2 linked regions of the Homo sapiens genome follow. The protein of the gene in region 1 purifies or fractionates together with the protein of each later gene. This does not show direct contact. Each region holds a gene or a part of one and is shown in the gene's direction. Other genes may lie near its edges.

The links.
Region 2: the proteins of ZSCAN1 (region 1) and ZNF174 purify together in Homo sapiens (affinity purification with mass spectrometry; 3 studies listed by BioGRID and IntAct, with this or other methods). This does not show direct contact.

Annotation. Positions count from the first base shown.
Region 1 is NC_000019.10:58,031,686-58,037,766, forward strand, and holds the start of ZSCAN1 (zinc finger and SCAN domain-containing protein 1), read left to right. Parts: upstream 1-2,339; 5' UTR 2,340-2,476; intron 2,477-3,057; exon of another isoform or gene 3,058-4,284; 5' UTR 4,285-4,326; exon of another isoform or gene 4,327-4,797; coding exon of another isoform or gene 4,798-4,808; intron 4,809-6,042; coding exon of another isoform or gene 6,043-6,081. UniProt on the Homo sapiens protein: May be involved in transcriptional regulation.
Region 2 is NC_000016.10:3,404,215-3,408,048, forward strand, and holds part of ZNF174 (zinc finger protein 174), read left to right. Parts: intron 1-211; coding exon 212-434; coding exon of another isoform or gene 435-559; exon of another isoform or gene 560-694; coding exon of another isoform or gene 695-774; exon of another isoform or gene 775-1,827; intron 1,828-3,834. UniProt on the Homo sapiens protein: Transcriptional repressor.

The DNA of each region.
Region 1 (6,081 bases):
ACAAAGATTTCTACTGCTTAAAAAAATTTTGGTCCGGGTACGGTGGCTCATGCCTGTAATCCCAGCACTTTAGGAGGCCGAGGCAGGTGGATCACCTGAGGTCAGGAGTTCAAGACCAGCCTGGCCAACATGGTAAAACCCCGTCTCTACTAAAAATACAAAAAAATTAGCTGAATGTGGTGGTGGGCACCTGTAATCTCAGCTACTCTGGAGGCTTAGGCAGGAGAATCACTTGAACCCGAGAGGTGGAGGTTGCAGTGAGCCAAGATCACGCCTTTGCACTCCAGCCTGGGCAACAAGAGCAAGACTCTTTTTAAAAAAAACAAAACAAACAAACAAAAAAAAACTGAAACCTCTGCTAGACACCAGGCTGCCTCCCAATGGATCTAGAGTTACCAGGTGGCCTATGATGGTGTCTAGATCCAGACTCTAGAGACAGACTAAGTCAGTGTTCTCTCAAGGGAGATTTCCCAAATGGGTGGCAGTTATAAATGCACACATGAGCCTTCACTGCCCCAAAGGGCCACGCCAATTTCAGCTACCAAGAAAATGAACCATGTCATTACAAGTGCCTAATTTTCAAGAAGGAGAATAATAAGCCCTTAGCACCCTAATTTGGTTTTCCCATAGTGGTTTCTGCACAAAGTGGCATTCACACACAACATTCCAGGGACCAGCCGCCAGCAGCAAAGATGCGGAGACACGGCTCTGATTATCCAGCTGAGGCAGCCCCTCCCCTCCCTGCCACTCCTGGGACTCTTAATCTCCAGGCCTCGTTTTATTTTATTCTAGGTATTTATATTTCCATGAAGCATCTGCTTTGTTTACTGGTGTTTGCCCCATGAACATGGGCTTCCAAGGGACTAAAGCCCTATCAGTCCCTCTCACTGATGTGCTCCCACCCCAGTGTCCAGAACAGTGCCTGGTACACATAGGCCCTCAATAAACAGCTGTCCAGCAGATGCTGGACCCCCTGGAGGTGGGTCCTCCTCTCTTTTCTTAGCTCACACTCTCCTGCTTCTTCTTCAGCAATGAGCAGCTTCAGCTATCCTGAGCTCAGTCCCAGAGCTGAGGACCCTCCTTGCATCATGATCTCACCCCCACCTGATTTCAGATACAAAACGAGTATCTGTGGAACCCTACTATTCTGGCACATGGTTACATTGTAGACATTAATATTAAAACTTATTTATATGAAATGTTCTTATGTAAGGTTTCGTTAAAGTATATGAAATATAGGACACATTGATACTAATTCCTTGTTTTTCTTTTTCTTTCTTTCTTTTTTTTTTTTTTTTTTTTTTTTTGAGACAGAGTCTCACTCTGTTGCCCAGGCAAGGCTGGAGTGCGTTGGCAGGTCTCGGCTCACTGCAACCTCGGCTTCCCCAGTTCCAGCGATTCTCCTACCTCAGCCTCCCGAGTAGCTGGGATTACAGGCACGCACCACCATGCCTGGCTAATTTTTGTATTTTTAGTAGAGACGGGGTTTCACCATGTTGGCCAGGCTGGTCTGAAACACCCGACCTCAGGTGATCCGCCTGCCTCGGCCTCCCGAGTTCTGGGATTACAGGCGTGAGCTATCGCGCCCGGCCTCCTTGTTTTTCTTGAGTTTACATATAACTGAGGTTTCTTTTTTCTTTCTTTTTTTTGGGGGTGGGGGGACGGAGTCTCGCTCTGTCACCCACGCTGGAAAACTGGAGTGCAATGGAGCAATCTCGGCTCACTGCAACCTCCGCCTCCCCGGTTCCAGTGATTCTCCTGTCTCAGCCTCCTGAGAAACTGGGATTACAGGCATGCGCCACCACGCCCAGGTAATTTTTGTATTTTTAGTAGAGACGGGGGTTTCACCATATTGGTCAGGCTGGTCTCGAACTCATGACCTCGTGATCCGCCTGCCTTGGCCTCCCAAAGTGCTGGGATTACAGGCGTGTCACCGCGCCCGGCCGACGTCCTGTATTTTTATTTGCTAAGAGTGGCGATCCTAGTCTGGGACATACTTGTACTAAACATATTTATATTAAAAACAATGTTTTAACATACTACTCTTGGACACTGTATAAAACGGTTGCGTGTCTGGAATGCCGTCGTTTTGCCCCGCGGCCCCATCGTACATGCGCATCCCCGCAGCCGCCACCGTCTCCACTTTCCGCAGCAGCGTCCCTGACGCTGCGCGACCCGTTGCCAAGGCGACTGGAACCGCGGCCCGAGGTAACTGGAGGGCACGGCGGGGGCGGGGCGCTCATCCCAGGCGGCTTCTGATTGGCCTCGGCCGCCTCGTGCGTCACAGCCCCGCCCCTGCCCGGGAGTCCCGCAGCGGTGACTTGTCACCGACGCCCGGCGTGATCCAGCGGACCAATGGCGGCCGCCCGCGGCGCGCAGGGTGCGGGGATGGGGTCCGCCCGCGGCGTTGGGCGCGCTCGCCAGCCCAGGGGTCGCCATGACCGAGTGGCCCAGGCCCGAGCGAAGCCCGCGCGCGGTGAGTCCGCCGCGGCCCATCCGTCCCTCCGCCCGCCAGAGCGTCCATCGGGACGCCCACCCGGGAGGGTCTCGGCGCCGCGTCGGCGGGAGCTGGCCCGGGATCGCGGTCCAGGGGCGCGCGTCGGGGGAGGCGGGCCCGGGCCCGGGAGGGGGCGGGCCGGGCCGGGGTTCCAGAGCCCATCGGGAGTCCTGAGGTCGCCGTAGGGGAGGGAAGGGGAAGGCTAGAGGCCACGCGGGGCGGGGACTGGGGGGGCTGGGGCCGCCCCTTCCGCAGGGACCCCGACCCCTGTTGGCATCCGCCTGTCCGTTTGAGGCCGAAGCCCCTCTACGTACCCCCATTGCCCGCCCAAACACCGCTCGGCCGCGTCCAAGTTCTCCCTTCCACACCTGATCAGCATCCCGGGACCTATCTCCCTCCTGAACAGCCGCCCCCGGACCCATCTCCCTCCCTACCCGGCCCCTTGGGCCCATCCCCCACTGGAACAGCAGCCCCCGACCCGTCTCTCTCCCTACAAGCTCCCCCTCCCCGCCCCAGGCCCATCTCCCTCCTGAACAGCCGCCCCCGACCCATCCCCCACCCAATCACCCCACCATCCTCCCCCCAACCAGCCGTCCACAGCCGTCGTCGCTGCCCCTCCCCTGTATTCCCAGTGCGCTGCCCTTGCACACTTCCCCAGCTCGTTTATTATGGAACTCCTCCGTGTGGCATCCTAAGCTCCCAACGCCCTCCCCACTGTAAGCCCCCTTCTCAAAGCCAGAACCATTCACTGACTGGCGCAGTGAACACGTCTTCTATGTCACTAAGCATCCGGCATCAGCGGCAAAGCCCTTCTGCCCATCCCCGCAATAGAATTTGGGGCTCGGGCTGCAGATCTCAGTGCCCATGCCAGGTGAACCTGGCCCTTCCACAGGCACTGAGCCCTCCAAGTGACACTCTCTCACACACACACATCCCCAACATTAATCAGAGACCCCTACCAAAGTAGACTTCTAGGACCCCAGGGCCACCACAGCATTGCCCATGGGGGGGCCCAGATCCTCCTCACCAGCCATGTAGACCTCAGTCCCCTTCACATCATCCCAGGCCCTCTTCATCTTCCAGAAACAGCCACCCATCAGTCCAGGACTCTCATCAGCTCAGGTACCCCCACATTGGCCTAGGTGTTCCACATCAGCCCCCATATAGACCCCAGACACACCCATGGACCTCTGGTGCCTTCTGCTAAGACCTCCTCTTTACCCTCATCCCTGATAAACTTAGCATCTCCTCCCACAGACCTCAGCCCAGGACCCTGGAGGATGCTGAGGGGCTACAGCCCCCCTCCCTAGAGTCTCCAGGGTGAGCTGCCATGAGCACCTGAGAGAGTATAAGGTCTGAGGCCCCAGGGCAAAGGGATTTCTTGAACCTGTGGAGCTTCAAAATAGGCCCTTTTTTCTTATTCAAAACTACATATATAAAAGTGTGAATACAACATAAGAGAGCATTTTTGCCTGTGGCCTTGGCAGGGAAGACCAAGCTGGTAGTTTCCCAATCAGGGTGCAGGTGGCCGGGTACGCTGACTCGAAGATGGCTGGCTGGGCACAGTCCCCGTGAGTTGCCTTTCTGCCACCCTGCACCTCTCCTTTCTCCTGGATTGTAAAACCAGATGCACGAGAACTGCAGAGTGTATGAAAAATGCAGCAGAGGATGAAGAGGGAAAAATCCCATGGAATCCCTCCTTTTCACTTGTCATAAGCATTTCCCATATGGTCAAAAATCCTTCCTAAAGATGTCTTGTTTTGTTTTGTTTTTCCATGTTGATGAAGGTCACATGGGAGCCCGACACCATTTGGAGGAGATTCAGAGAAGTATGAACAGCACAAAGCACTTGGCCGCCCCCCATGGGCGTCTTCCCAGGACTCCCTTTCTATGACACTCACGCATCATCCTGCATCCCACGTTCCCTGTGCCTCATGTCATCTGTACATCATGTGTCTACTCCCCGTGGTCATGTCATAGTGTTGTGTACTGGGCACGGTTGAATACTCCCATCACATGATGGGGGAGGTAGTTGATCCCACCACGTTCAACTGTTGGGCACTTTTGTAGTGAATCTTGGTGCCTGAATCTCGCATCTTGCACGCAGTCTACCAAGTGTTCTTGATATATAAATGGCCACAGTGCTTTCCAGAAAGGTCGTGCCAATTTATATTCTCACCAGCGGATCAGTCCAGAGTACAATTGTTAAAGACAAACAAACGAAACCTCCCTGCTTATTTTTATTTTTACAACTTTTAATGTTTTCTTCAGTTATATGTTCACCATAGTCGGCTTGGAAAATGTACAAAAGGTAACTTCTTTTTTTTCTTTTCTTTTTTTTTTTTTTTTTTGAGACAGAGTCTTACTCTGTCGCTCAGGCTGGAGTGCAGTGGCACAGTCTCAGCTCACTGCAATCTCCGCCTCCTGGGTTCAAGCATTTCTCCTGTCTCAGCCTCCCGAGTAGCTGGGATTACAGGTGCGTGCCACCACGCCCAACTCATTTTTGGTTATTTATTTTTTTTGGGATGGAATCTCACGCTGTCACTCAGGCTGGAGTACAGTGGTGCGATCTTGGCTTACTGCAACCTCTGTTTCCTGGGTTGGAGCAATTCTCCTGCCTCAGCCTCCCACGTAGCTGGGATTAGAGGTGTGCACCACCACGCCGGCTAATTTTTGTATTTTTAGTAGACGGGGTTTCGCCATGTCGGTCAGGCTGGTCTTGAACTGCTGACTTCAGGTGATCCACCCACCCGGGCCTCCCAAAGTGCTGGGATTACAGGTGTGAGCCACGGCACCCGGCCACAAAAGGTTATTTTAAAATTACTCTTCCCACTTTCCCTCTCTTTTCAGAGTCTCCAGTCTCCCTTGCCCTCTTCCTGGTCTCCACCCCCAGCTTGGACCTGGTAGGAAAGTCAGGAAGACAGCAAAGATAACACCATGGGTAGACCTGCTGCTGGTGGTGGTGTCATCCATTATTATGTAGCCCACCTGGCTGCTTCCATTTAAATGGAATTTAAATTTAAAATTCAGTTCCTATTTCAGGTGCTCCTAGCCACACGTAGGTGGTTGCATGGGTAGAGAATCTTTACATCCCTGTAGGAACTTCACTGGGCAGTGCTGGCCACACCACGGGGCAGGCATTCTTGTTCCCGCAGCTCGTCAGTCAATGTGTGTTGAATGACTAAATGAGAGGGAGATAGACACTAAGTAAGGGGAAAAGTTGTGTTCAGAAAGTCATGGAGGTTATGAAGACAGTGCCATAAGGATGATGGCCAGGACATCTGCGAGGGGAGGAGCTGGGGTGGGAAGGGGAGGGGCTGGGGTGGGATGGCAGGTGCAAAGGTCCTGGGGCAGCCAGTGGCTTGAACTCAGTGCAAAGTAGCCTGTGAGAGGCATGTGGAAGATTAGGTCAGAAGGTGGGAAGAGGTCAGGTTGGTTCCTTGGGGTGCTGGAGGTCAGAACAAGGAAGTAAGGAGCCGAGGGGCATCCTGAGTACAGAGGGCCACCATCTGATGTGACCCCTCTGTCCCTGCCCCTCTCTGCAGGCCCCTGATTGCTGATTCTGTCCGCCTGCCACACCGGCT
Region 2 (3,834 bases), on another chromosome or scaffold:
AAGCCACTCGGCTGATTTGTAGCATCCTCATTCCTGTCATTCTTCACGTTCTCCCCTTTACTTCCTTTGAGGGTTTCAGTGGTTTCTATGAAAGTTGACCTCTAGATGGTTATCAGCAATTCCCAAGGTAAACGGGTCATTATACAACAGTGAGAGATCAAGCTTCCCTCAGTCCTGATGGATGGAATTAATGGATGGGGCTTGTTCCTAGGTGGCCGTTTGTATGCAGGGGCAAAAGGTGCTCTTGGAGAAAACTGGATCTCAGCTTGGAGAACAGGAACTGCCAGACTTTCAACCGCAGACTCCTAGGAGAGATCTCAGGGAGAGCTCTCCAGCAGAGCCTTCCCAGGCAGGAGCTTATGACCGGCTGAGCCCCCATCATTGGGAGAAATCCCCACTCCTCCAAGAACCAACCCCCAAATTGGCTGGGACAGGTAAACACTCTGCCTTTTCTCTCCCTCTCATCAGCCCTTTATCTCCATCAATGTATCTCATGGTTCTGCAAAGGCATAGACCACATGTGTGTGTTTTTTTAAATGTTATATATAATAGTAGATGATTATTCACTAAACAAATTTCACTAATTAGGATGGTGGTGATACTACAAGTAAGTATGTTTTTATCGTTTTCTGTTAATGAAAATTTAAGAATCCAGTGCATGACAGGGTTGTACCTACTTTTCTGTCCGTTTCAGAACTTCTTATAGAAAAGACAGATCCAAATATGGCCACAGATGAACTTCCATGCAAGCTATGGCTGAGTTTCATTGCTTAAAATGCTCCTCTGTTTAGAGGGGCCTGGTAGAAATAAAAACCCACCCTATATCTTATATCTTTGTCCTCCTCTGTGATGTTGCTTGTACTTTAGATCCTCAAATCTATTTCCCTTTCTCTGGTGTGATACTTGTGTAACTGCTGGCCTTGTTCTACACAGTCCTGTGATCTCTAAGCCTGAATGACAGTGACATTTTGGCCAAGCCTGGTGATGTGAATACAAGATACAGTGAGCACGTTAGGGAGGAGGGTTACAAGACGACAAAAATCCTCAGTTTCTTAATATTTGCTACATCCAATGAGGTACTTCGTGTTTTAGTCTGTTCAGGCTGCTAATATAAAATGCTAGAGACTAGGTAGTTTATAAACAACAGGAGTTTATTTCTCACAGTTCTAGAGGCTAGGAAGTCTGAGTTCAAGGTGCCAGCATGGTTGGGTTCCAGTGAGGCCCCTCTTCCAGGTCACAGACTGCCTACTTCTCAGTCCTCATGTGGCAGAAGGGGAAGACAGGCTCCCGTGGGGCTCTTTCATGAAGGCACTAATCCCATTCCAGTGAGGGCAGCACCCTCATGACCTAATCACCTCCCAAAGGCCCCATGTCCTAACACTATTACCTTGGGAGTTAGAATTTCATATGAATTTGGAGGAACATAAACATTTAGCCCCTGGCAACCACAGTCTACTTTTTGTCTCTAGAATTGCTTATTCTGAACATTTTATACAAATGGAATCACACAGGCCGGGCACAGTGGCTCACGCCTGTAATCCCAGCACTTTGGGAGGCCAAGGCAGGCGGATCACTTAGGCTCAGGAGTTCGAGACCAGCCTGGGCAACATGGCGAAATCCTGTCTCTACAAAAAATGCAAAAATTAGCGGGGCATGGTGCTGCACACCTGTAATCCCAGCTGCTTGGGGGAGCTGAGGCAGGAGGATCACTTCAACCTGGGAGGTCGAGGCTGCAGTGAACTGAGATCGTGCCACTGCACTCTAGCCTATGTGACAAAGTAAGACCCTGTCTCAAAAATAAATAAATAAATAAATTGAATCACACAATATGTGGTCTTTTGTGTGTGGCTTCTTTCACTGAGCATGTTTTCAAGTTTTATCCATGCTGTAGCATCAATCAGTGCTTCATTCCTTTTCTGTGGCTGAATAATAGGCATTGTACGGATATATTACATGTTGGTTTTCTGTTCATGTTGGTTCATCTGTTCATAGATTTTTGGGTTGTTTCTACTTTTTGGTTATTATGAAGAATGCTGCTATAAATGTGTGTTTTTGTGTAGACATGTTTTCATTTCTCTTGAGTATATACCTAGGAGTGGAATTACCATATGCTAGGTCATGTGGTAATTCCATGTTTAACTTATGAGGAACTACCAGACTGTTTTCCAAAGCAGCTACACCATTTTACATCCCCACCAATACTGTGTGAGGATTCCGATTTCTCCACATTCTTGCTAGCACTTGTTATTGTCTTATACCCATCCTATTCGGTGAGAAATTTTGATTTGAGGTTTTGATTTACATTTCCCTAGTGACTAATGGTGTTGAACATCTTTTCATGTGCTTATTATCCAGTTACATATCTTGTGTGGAAAAATATCTGTTCAGATCCTTTGGTCATTTTTAAATTAGGTTATTTGTCTTTATTTTTTATAAGAGTCCTTTATGTATTCTAGATACTAGACCCTTATGTGTAATTTGCAAATCTTTTCTCTCATTTTGTGGGTTGTCTCACTTTCTTGACAGTGTCCTTTGACGCACACGTTTTTCATTTTGCTGCAGTCTAATTTATCTATTTTTTTCTTTCTTTATGCTTTGGTGTCATATGTAAAATAGCACTGCCTAATCCAAGGGCACAAATATGTACAGCTATGGTTTCTTCAAGGAGACATAGATTTAGCTCTTACTTTCAGCTATTTGGTCCATTTTAAGTTTATTTTTTCCCCATACATAAACAAGTCAATTTTTATATAGGTTTTGAGGTAGGGGTCTGTCAATCTGATCAGGGGTCTGTCTTAATCTGATCAGGCTCTTACAACAAATTGCCTTAGACTAGGTAATTTATAAACAACAGAAATTTGTTGCTCATAGTTCCTGGATACTGGGAAGTTCAAGATCAAGGTGCCAGCAGATTTGGTGTCTGGCGAGGGCCCATTCCTCATAAATGGTGCCTGCTATGAGTCCCCACATGGTAGTCTCTTGGGTTTCTTTTATAAGGACACTAATCCCATTTATGAGGACCCCACCCTCATAACCTAATCACCTCCCAGATGCCCCACCTCCCAAGACCACTGCACTGGGGACTGTCAATATATGTGTGTCAGGGGACAGGGGGGATAAACATTCAGACCATAGCAGGGTCCAACTTCATTCTCTTGTATGTGGAAATCCAGTAGTCCTAGAATCCTTTATGAAAAAGACTATTCTTTTCCCATTGAATTGTCTTGTCAAAAAGCAATTGACCCTGATTGTATAGGCTGATTATTTACATTTGAATTTAAATGAATTAAAATTAAAAAAAAATTTAAAATTAAGTTCCTTAGTCACAGTAGTCACATTTCAAGTACCCAGTAGCCACATAGTCACATGTGGCTAGTGGCTGCCATATTGAACAACGTGCATGTGCCTGTGCATGCACGTGTGCACACACACATTTTCCACATCACAAGGGATCCTTCTCCAGATCCTGTGATTTCCCATAGGCCGTTCCAGCTCATCTCCATCCAGACTGTCAATCCTTCTGTAATTAGGATACATGGCTAAGCCCTGATTCCAGTTTCTGAACTCATATACTGTCAAATTTGTAATGAAAGAAAACATCACAGTCTCTGAACTTACCATCTTTTGAAGAGAAGGTGGTTGTCAATTAGTGTTTACTAAGTGAGGGGTATTTGTTGAAATAGCTCAGGCATTGGACTACAGCAGTAAAATTTGCAATGTTGAGATTTCACCTCTCTTCCTTCTTCATTAGATACCCAATTCTGATGGGTTTGCTTTTCCCTGTTCTTCATTTCCTAAACCTTTCCCTAAAGGGAGAAAGGAAGAAGGAGGATG